2 separate regions of the Homo sapiens genome follow, and region 1 is linked to region 2. Evidence: fine-mapped expression QTL. A gene starts in region 2. The other region holds a variant in brackets. All regions are shown on one strand. Distances are from middle to middle. Region 1 overlaps USP30 (ubiquitin specific peptidase 30). Region 2 holds the start of USP30 (ubiquitin specific peptidase 30).

Region 1 (5,378 bases), 32 kb after region 2:
TGACTGTATCCAGTGGGTCTTTTCAGCCACTTCTACTTCTCCCTAATTTGGTTTGGACATTGGCAGCTCATGGACCAAATCTCTTTCCCAGATGAGTTTTGTTTCATGCACAGTGTTTAAAGAATAAACTGTCACGCTGAGATGAGAAATGCCCTCTCCAGTTTGCTGCAGTTGCCTCCAATCCCATTTGTTTTACACCCTTCCTTTTAACCTGTGCTACCTGCCTGACTCCCCTAAGTAACTTGAGTTTTCCCCTCTGACTCAAGAGGAACTGTATGGAACAGAATTTTTGAAGACAGAGAACAATTAATAGATGACATGCCAGTGTCAGAGCATCAGTGTTCGCTCTTCACATTCTCTTCCCTCCACTGTTTCTGTTATTTAATGACTAAGAGGGATCAGGGAAAACAATTCACAAATAACTGGGCAGCTGGGTTCATTTCAGCAGGTAGCAGTCAAGTGCCAATTGTGTGCCGCTATAACACCACTGTGGTCTGCAGCACTCCAAAGCTGTCCTATTTTAGGCATTGCTGCAGAGAAATGTTCCTTTTATTTCAGATTGAAGCCAAGGGAACGTTGAACGGGGAAAAGGTGGAACACCAGAGGACCACTTTTGTTAAACAGTTAAAACTAGGGAAGGTGAGCCCACACTACACACCCTGTTGGCTTTGTTTTGAGGACTCCGTGTATCCTGCCCCTGAAACAACTCGGTTCTCCCGATTTCTCTTCCACCCGCAGCTCCCTCAGTGTCTCTGCATCCACCTACAGCGGCTGAGCTGGTCCAGCCACGGCACGCCTCTGAAGCGGCATGAGCACGTGCAGTTCAATGAGTTCCTGATGATGGACATTTACAAGTACCACCTCCTTGGACATAAACCTAGTCAACACAACCCTAAACTGAACAAGAACCCAGGGCCTACACTGGAGCTGCAGGATGGGCCGGGAGCCCCCACACCAGGTGTGTGCGCGCGAGGAGCCGATGCAGCAGGAATTTTCAGCACAGAGAAAAGCAGTTTGGCATCACCACCTTCTGGGTCCCTTATGACAGGAGCACAAGGCTTGTACAATGGTGCTTAAACTCTTGAGAACAGCAGGATTGGGGGTGGAAGAGGGAAGATTTCTTAGAAGAGGTTAAAATTATGTAGCAGTGAGATGTATCGTTTTTGAAACCATATTACAGATGAAAAAGTACAGAGAGAAACGCTTAAAATTGCAGCTTTGCCTTCTAATTTTTCCGCTAAATGATATAATCATTGGCTCACATCATTCCAGTGAATTTCTTTTTTCGGTCATGTCATTTCCTGTCAGTAGAGGAAATGTAGGGAGGACATGTCCTGGCTAAAGATCACTGAGCCTCTTCTGGGGGTTGAAATGCCTTCTGTACTGAATTATGTATCTGATTCCATTACTGCCCTCAGCTGAGGTCTCATTTAAGCCGGGTAGCTATTATCGCCGGTCTTACTGATAAGAACATGGAGGCTCCACGGGGTTGAATGATTGGTCCAAGGGCAAACACCACACAGGAGAACTGGCCCTAGAATGCCATGTTGGGCCATTTTCTAAAGGTGTCTCATGTGACACACTGAGTTCTTTAGAGTTAGACATGAGGAAAACCCACTCACTTGAAGGGCTCACAGCCTGAACTCACCACCTGTCTGCTGCCCCCAGTTAGGTCAGGATTGTCTCACACCCCATACTTTCCTATTTAGGGTCCCTTACTCCTTTTGTTCTTTTTATGACCACAGTTGCATGGCCCGACACCTCATCATGTCAGGGAGATTGTGTTTTCCTCTTTCTCATCAAGTCACTAGATTAACATCGAAAAGAGATGAGGTAGGGGACAGACTCTGGTTCAGTCCTTGGCCCTGGTTTTAAATCAAAGACCTCTGCACCCCAGCTTCCCCATCTCCTGGGCTGGGGTGCAGGTTTACTAATGTTGAGAGCATGCTGGCTGTGGTTAAAGATGCCAGCAGTAGGGCCACTCGTGGTGGCTCACACCTGCAATCCCAGCACTTTGGGAGATTGAGGTGGGAGGATTGCCTGAACCCAGATGTTTGAGGCTGCAGTGAGCTGTGATCACACCACTGTGCTCCAGCCTGGGCAACAGAGCAAGATCCTGTCTAAAACACACACAAAAAATGTCATCAGGAAACTACTTGGTACATAACAGCCCCCAAAAATGACACTTGAAAGGAAAAGACATGTAAATATGGCCTTAATTATGTTGTCTACCCATAAACATGTATGAATGCTATTACACGTTGGTATTCCTTAGAAGCTGACAGAATTAAAGCAAATAGAATGCTTAGATCAGTGGTTCTCAACTTGGAGGAGTTTTGCCTCCCAAGGGACATTGGGCAGTGTCTGGTAACATTTTTGGTTATCACTACTGGGGGAGGGGTGCTACTGGTGTCTAGTGGGTAGAGGCCAGGGATGCTGTTCAACATCCTCTAATGCACAGGACAGCCCCCGCAACAAAGAATGATCCAGCCAAAACCATCA[T/C]GGTGCTGCTGTTGAGAAACCTTGGTTTAGGTCAAAAGCCAGTAAATTAGCTACTGATTAACTTTGATACATGGCATTAGCAAACAGGGCTAGGAAGCTCAAAGATCCCAGGCTAGCCGTAAAGCTGGAGCTAGATACACTTTTCCTATTTGGGATTAAGACAGATTATCCCTATTTGAGATTAAGGATAAAGGGCAGATTATTTTATGAATCTATATAATACCAAATGAAATAGATTTTTTTCTTTGTAGCATTATGGGGAGTTAACTTTCAAGGTAATCAAAACCAGGTTTTGTTTACAGAGCCACTGCTAATTTTCATTGACTCGGGCCTTTTTCTCTTGCAGTTCTGAATCAGCCAGGGGCCCCCAAAACACAGATTTTTATGAATGGCGCCTGCTCCCCATCTTTATTGCCAACGCTGTCAGCGCCGATGCCCTTCCCTCTCCCAGTTGTTCCCGACTACAGGTGAGCCACCCTTTACAAGCCCCATCTTAGAGCTACCACTGCTCTTAGCTTCTAAAATTAGCTTTTCACAGAAATGAATTAAGGAAAATATAGATGTTTATTTTTCATTTTAAGGTGAAGTTTCACGATTACACATTCCTATTTATTTTTGTCCAAAATGGAAATAACTTTTAAATTAAAAATTTTTAAAGTACATAAAATTTACATATGCATATGTATGTGTGTATATATGTGTGTATGTATAAAATATAAAGAAAATTTAAAATTTCTTGGGATACCATCTAGAGATAGCCAATTAAACACTTAGGGTCATGCACTCTATAAAGTTGTACATCACACATACATATAGTGTACATAAACACATACACTCATTGATACAAACATCCACATATACACAATATACATATACTCATAGAATGTACATCTTGCCATGCCAGTAAATACAGATCTGTATTTTAATAGTTGTGTAGCATTTGGTGGTATGGACTTACCATTGTATTCATCCCCTATTTAACATTAGCATTCTTTTGTTTTTGCCTATAAAGTCTTTTTGTTAAAATTGTAAACCCCTGACATGTGTTCGTATCATTCAGCTCCTCCACATACCTCTTCCGGCTGATGGCAGTTGTCGTCCACCATGGAGACATGCACTCTGGACACTTTGTCACTTACCGACGGTCCCCACCTTCTGCCAGGAACCCTCTCTCAACTAGCAATCAGTGGCTGTGGGTCTCCGATGACACTGTCCGCAAGGCCAGCCTGCAGGAGGTCCTGTCCTCCAGCGCCTACCTGCTGTTCTACGAGCGCGTCCTTTCCAGGATGCAGCACCAGAGCCAGGAGTGCAAGTCTGAAGAATGACTGTGCCCTCCTGCAAGGCTAGAGCTGATGGCACTGTCTGCACTGTCCAGGAAAAAAGTAAAACTGTACTGTTGCGTGTGCAAGCGGCCCCACTAGAGCCTTCCAGCCTTCTGGTGTGTTCTAAGAGCAGGCTCCACCTGGGAGCCAGCCCCAGTTCACACCAAACCAGGCTCCCTGAACAGTCCTGTTCATGTGTGTAGGTGGTTCTGTTGTGTTAAGAAAGCATTCATTATGTCCGGAGTGTCTTTTTACTCATCTGATACAGGTAATTAAAAGAACTCAGATTCTTGAAGCCACCGTTTTCATATTGTAATGTTAGGTGTTCTCAGAGGGGAGGTACCTTTGTCTAATCAACGTTTCCACTTAGATCTTTTATTTTTAATAAGCAGGCCCATAAAAATTGTTGACAAGAATTAATGAAATTATTAAAGGCAACAATTTAGAAGAAAAAGTGCCTTTCACTTTCGATTGCTTTTGTAGCACGTCCATTGTGAAATATTCCTTCCAGGCTACTCAAAGGATAGCAAGAGAACAGGTAAATGATGCCTAAAGAACACCTTCCTTTTTCTATGCCTTTTCTAATCTTTCAATTCTTTCTATGGAGTAAAGGCTCATCTGCCAAATCTGCCCCCTGGGGAAACTCTTTCACTACTTTGTCAGTTATAAGTGAAGAGCTTACTTGTTGCTTTTATCTTTTGTATATTGGACTGAGATGTAATTACACTGTATTATAAAACTCTGTGAATAGCCAGAACTGAGCTGGATCTTTGCAACACCTGATTCCTCTGCTCTGTGGAAAACTTTTTCTTACACAAGGATCCACTGTGGACGGTTACTTTCATCTGTTTATTTATTGCCCATGCAGAGCTCTTAAGGTTTACAGGTGGGAGCTTGGGGCTGTATAAAAAAATAATCCCTGCCCTGAGTTGACACCTGGCTTAGGAAGGAAGGGCTGACTATGGGGCTGCAGTCTCTCTGAACCTCAGTTTCCTCATTTGTGAAGTGAAGGGTTAGATTTGATGACCACCAAAGTTCAGCCCTTTTCACGAAAAGGAGAAAGCAGCTTTTGACTTTTTAAAAAACATATAACTACAGCTGGCATCTAGTATTGTCATGTTGCTCTAGGTCCATATTCTGAATTTATTCATTTCCAATAGCCTAATACAAAAAGTATATATTGAGCACTTTCTTCCCTTTTCAGGTAAGTCTCTGAATGCAGCCCAGGGCCAAAGGAATTTTGATGACACAGTAGTACCTATGTTTTAAGCTATATTTTTAATTTAGAAAAATGGATACCAAATTCAAACCGACTCATCAGAGGTAAGATTTGGAATCAGACCTTTCCAAAAGGTCATCTGAGGTAAGGCTAAGACCGCACTTCCTCTGCTGGGGGTGAGCTGGCAGACACACCAAACAGTGCCTTGGCAGCAGCTCACAGTGCAGGAAGCCCAGGTGATCACTCTTCTGCTGGGCCCAGGCTGCACCCTGAGGACTCAGTAACTCACTCTCAACAGAATATTCTGTGCAGGCTCTCCAGGCTCTGGGCGTCAG
Region 2 (5,378 bases):
ATTGCAAAAAAGAAAAGAAAAAAAAAAGTTTGAAATATTACAAGAATTACCAGGATGTGGTACAGAGACACGAAGTGAGCACATGCTGTTGAAAATGGTGCCAATAGACTTGCTGTAGTCAGGTAGCCACAAACCTTGAACTTGTAAAAATGCAGTATCTTCGAAGCACAATAAAGTGAAGTGCAATAAAACAAGATATGCCGGGCGGGGCACGGTGGCTCACACCTGTAATCCCAGAACTTTGGGAGGCCAAGGTGGGTGGATCACAAGGTCAGGAGTTCAAGAGCAGCCTGGCCAATATGGTGAAACCCTGTCTCTACTAAAAATACAAAAATTAACTGGGCGTGGTGGCGGGAGCCTGTAGTCCCAGCTACTCGGGAGGCTGAGACAGGAGAATCACTTGAACCCGGGAGGCGGAGCTTGCAGTGAGCTGAGATCACGCCACTGCACTCCAGCCTGGGCCACAGAGCGAGCCTCCATCTCAAAAACAAACAACAACAACAAAAAAACAAGATATACCTATATACCTCAATTTTAAGGAAACAAAAATTCTCAATTTTAATTTCTAACAGAGTACAGTTAGATATAAACAAAATCCCTCAATCCTTTTTAAGCGTACAAAGAGATCCGGAGAACAAAAACTTTGAGAACTACTGATCTAATGCATTGATTTCTTTTGTTTTGTTTCTGTAGTTGGGGCTACAGGTATGCGACACCACCCCCAGCATGAATGCAATTACTCAGTCTGGAGTCGGAGAAAGCGATTGAAAGGGAGGGAAAAATCTTGCTGGCTCTAATGCTTTATAAACTGTGCTGTCCAATACGGTAGCTGCTGGCCACTTGGGGCTATTGAGCACATGAAAAGTGGGTACTCCAAACTGAGAGGTACTTAGTACCAAAAAACAAAAAAATAATGGGCCGGGCGCGGTGGCTCACACCTGTAATCCCAACACTTTGGGAGCCCGAGGCGGATGGATCACGAGGTCAGGAGTTCAAGCAGCCTGACCAACATGGTGAAACCCCGTCTCTACTAAAAATACAAAAAAATTAGCCGGGCGTGGTGGTGTGCACCTGTAATCCCAGCTACTCAGGAGGCTGAGGCAGGATAATCGCTTGAACCTGAGAGGCGAGATCGTGCCATTGCACTGCAGCCTGGGCGGCAGAGCAAGACTCCATCTCAAAAAAAAAAGAATGTAAATTATCTCATCAATAATTTTCACATAGAAATGACATATTTTGTTTTTCTTTTCTTTGTTTTTCGGTAGCCATGGGTTCTTGCTATGTTGCCCAGGTGGCCTTGGACTCTGGGCCTGAAGCCATCCTCTCACCTGGCCTCCCAAAGTGCTGGGATTATAGGCATAAGCCACTGCACCTGCCCCAATATTTTGAACATATTGGGTCAAGGAAAAAATATGGTTAAAATTAATTTTACCTCTTGCTTTTTTTTTTTTTTTTTTTTTTTTTGATGCTGAATCTCTCTCTGTTGCCCAGGCTGGAGTGCAGTGGTGTGATCTCAGCTCACTGCAGCCTCCGCCTCCCAGGTTCTAGCGATTCTCCCGCCTCAGCCTCCCGAGTAGCTGGGATTACAGGCACGCGCCACCACACCTGGCTGATTTTTGTATTTTTTAGTAGAGACGGGGTTTCACCATATTGGCCATGCTGGTCTCGAACTCCTGACCTCAAGCAATCCGTGCCCCCCACCCCCACCCCCCGGCCTCCCAAAGTGCTGGGATTACAAGTATGAGCCATCGCACCTGACCTCTTTTTTTTTTTTTTTGAGATGGAGTCTGGTTCTGTCACCCAGGCTGGAATGCAGTGGCATGATCTTGGCTCAGTGCAACCTCCACCACCACGGTTCAAGCAATTCTCCTGCCTCAGCCTCCTGAGTAGCTGGAATTACAGGAGCCTGCCACCACGCCCGGCTAATTTTTGTATTTTTAGTAGAGATGGGGTTTCACCATGTTGGCCAAGCTGGTCTCGAACTCTTGACCTCAGGTGATCCACCAGCCTCGTTCTCCCAAAGTGCTGGGATTACAGGCGTGAGCCACGGCGTCTGGCCTACCTCCTGCTTTTCACTTTAATGTGGCTACTGGAAAATGTAAAATTACCTATGTGGCTCCTGTATATTTCTGTTGGAGAGTGCCATTCTGGAGACAGACAGACCGAACTGCCAATCTCTGTTTCACCACTTACAAGCTGCGTCAAAAAACTTACTATTTCTTCAAATTTCCTGGGTTCCCTGGGATGTAAAATGTGGGTAATGTTAGAGTTGGTGTGAATATTAAATGTAAATAATGAATGTAACATACTTAGCTCTATACCTGGCACCCAAGTAAACAATAAGTTTGTTGGCTATTAAAGACGTTGATTTCTCTACTGATATCGTCAGAGATGGGCCTCATGCTCATTAAAGTTCCTTCCTCTGCGACCTATTTCCACTCTGGCCACAATAATAACTAATTATAGCAGAGGCCTGACCCGACTTTCGGCTGTTGGCCTCCCTTCCCCACATCGAAAAATTCAAATCATGACCCAGGGTCCATCCTAGAAGTGTGCCATCTGTATTTATGAATGGAGCCTAAGCAAATCTGAAAACCAAGCAGCCCCAGGCAACTGAGCCCAGCGTAGCAACCGACGCCGGGGCCTGTTGCTAAGGGAAAAGAAAGAAAGGACGTGGTCCGTCAGCTATTGCTCTCCGGGGGCAGCTACTTCCGGTCCCCCTGGGAGCTGTCCTGCGGTCTACGTTCCCCCGAGGTGCTGGGACTGCGGCCGCAGGTTCCGCTGTCTCGGGAACCGTCGTATCCCTCGGTCCGGCGGCGGCGGCGGCGGTAGCGGAGGAGACGGTTTCAGGCCTCCGGTGCGGCTGCAATGCTGAGCTCCCGGGCCGAGGCGGCGATGACCGCGGCCGACAGGGCCATCCAGCGCTTCCTGCGGACCGGGGCGGCCGTCAGGTGAGATTTTGGGGGGCGGGGCTGCCGAAGAGGCCGGGACCAGGGTCCCCAGCTTGGGCCCGTGACGGCTTTTTCATGCCCTAGTTGGGGTCTCCAGGGCCCGCGCGGGCATTCTGGAAGGTTCTGCGTCCTTTAGGGTTGGAGGCCTGGGCCCGTAGGTGGGAGGACTGACGGGCTCCAGTCCTTCGGCAACACCAATTCTGTCTGCACTCCCCAGGTCTGTCAGTCCCTCCCCCTCCTGTCATTGTTCCCAGGACACCCGGGGCACTCCAGTCTTGTCAAGGCCCCTAATTCTGTCAGTGCCCTCAGTCCTTTCAGTGCCTCCTAGGCCTGCCAAGACCCCTCAATCCTTCTAGTATACCCCCAGTCCTTCTGGGTCCCCCAATCATATCAGTTTCTGGACTGCCAGGGTTCCCCAACCTTGGCACGGTTCTTCTAGTCCTATAAGTGCCCCGGGCCTGCGAGCCCCGCGTTTTGTTAGTACCGCCCCCTATTCCTGTTAGCCCGCCCTCTAGTCTAATATGGATCGCCACTTCTGTCTGGGTCCCTGATGTTGTTAGTGTGAGTAAAGGCCCTTGTTTTGCAAGGGTCTCTAAATTGGTCAGGGCCCCTTTAACCTGTTAAGGTTGCTTGGTCCTGTTAAAGCCCTCCGTTCTTGTTAGGACTCCTCGATTGCCTGGGTCCCCAATCCTGTCAGGGCCCCCATTTCCCTCTTATTCACCCTCCCAAGGGCTCCAGGCTTCAGAACTGAGTACCCCCTCCCCCACTGCTGACCCCAAATGACTGAGACCTGTTGCTCAGGTCGGCTTCCTCTGGAACTGGAGCAGGTTTAAAGAGCTTATTATCCCAGGGCTGAAAGTCCTCGATACTTATCCTGTCCAGTGCCCCCATTCCGTAGATAGGAAGTGTGGCCCCATAGCTGACCTCATAGCAGAGTTGGGAGGAGAAGCCAGATCTTTTCATCCGCAGGCCCCACCACTCTCCTCGTGATGTCATTTTGCAGAGGAATGGAGTTTCCAAAGTCGCCACTTGTCCCTGGGTATTTTTTCCTTATGCTGCCAAAGTCATGGACAAGTCCTCTCTCCCATCCCCTTGACACTCTTCCCTTCAGTTTCCATCTTGAACTTCGTGGTTTTAAGCACAGACCTGGGGAGACAGACAGGCATGATTCAGAGCCATGTTCCTTCACTCACTGTGACCAAGTTGGGCTCTTAGTTTCTTCTGCTATAAAAATGAAAGTGATAGTAGAACCTGCATCTGTGGGGTTGTTTTAAAAATGAGGTAAGATTGTCACAGGGCCTGGCAGAGAGTATGTACCCTTAAATATTAGTGTTTGATTAGGGGATTTTAAAGCACTGGTAAAGCACCTTAGCACTTCCATGACAGTCCTTTATAATCTTTCCAGGCACTTTTGTGAACTCACGTATCGTGTAAAAGCACAGTGATGTATTAAGAAACTTCAAGAATACCTTTCACCAGCTGGGCATGGTGGCTCACACCTGTAATCCCAGCTCTTTGGAAGGCTGAGGCAGGTGGATTTCTTGAGCTCAGGAGTTCGAGACCAGCCTGGGCAATGTAGTGAGACCCTGTCTCTACAAAAAAATTTAAAAATTACCTGGGCATGTGGTGTGCAGCTGTGGTCCCAGCTACTTGGGAGGCTGAGGCAGGAGGATCACCTGAGCCCGGAAGGTGAAGATTGTGTTGAGCTGAGATGGCACCACTGCACTCCAGCCTGGGCACTAGAGCAACTAGAGCAAGACACTGTCTCAAAAAAAAATAAAAATAAAAATAAGAAAAAAAGAAAGAATAGCTTTCATGAATGATCCTGAGATTGTAATGCTTAATTTGTAGCAGCTAACATTTATTAAGTTCTTACTATGTACTGTATGCATTCACACTTATTTAATCCTCACAACAGCCCTATGAGGTAGGTCTTATGGATTGTCCCCATTGTACAGATGAGGAAACTGAGGCTTAGAAGGTGAAGTGATGCCAAATGAAATAGCAAAGCCAGGATTGAACCAGAATAAGGTAATCCCACTTTCTTAACCAAGTTTGGTGCATATTCTGTTGACTCTGTCTTGGAAAACAAATATTTATCTGAAATTCAGCTATCAGCTATGATACTAAGAAATGCTGATTATTATAAAACAGGGTCAATATTACCACCAGTGACTCTTCACCAAGTTAATGTTTACTGAACTGAAATCAAAACAATATTCACATGATCCAAATACTGGGATAATAATGTATTACACACACACACACACAAACACGTATGTATGCATGTGTAACATATATGCAGATACACATTACATAGCTATATACACATAGATGGTTTGTCTTATTTTGTAGAAATATATAACTTTGTATAAAAACAATGTTTTAAATTGTTGGGGAAATTTCTTAATATGTAGCAAAAGCATA

What was found. PIP is the estimated chance that this variant, and not a neighbour inherited with it, causes the effect.
Region 1: its variant is the best candidate, but not a certain one, in a credible set for the expression of USP30 in whole blood (INTERVAL, PIP 0.78).

The regions. Positions count from the first base shown.
Region 1 is chr12:109,082,105-109,087,482 of GRCh38, forward strand. USP30 (ubiquitin specific peptidase 30) reads left to right here. Exons shown (of 13, transcript NM_032663.5): 10 at 559-639; 11 at 739-958; 12 at 2,849-2,969; 13 at 3,563-5,378. The coding sequence ends at 3,827. Among named protein-coding and RNA genes, the nearest start is that of ALKBH2, 8.7 kb to the right of the region's middle. The variant T/C (reference allele first, on the strand shown) is at 2,503.
Region 2 is chr12:109,049,811-109,055,188 of GRCh38, forward strand. USP30 (ubiquitin specific peptidase 30) reads left to right here and starts at 2,766. Exons shown (of 13, transcript NM_032663.5): 1 at 2,766-2,951. The coding sequence starts at 2,869. It overlaps USP30-AS1 (USP30 antisense RNA 1), which reads right to left and starts at 4,155. Exons shown (of 2, transcript NR_038996.1): 1 at 3,876-4,155; 2 at 2,231-2,928. RefSeq lists enhancers at 2,960-3,459, 3,793-4,162.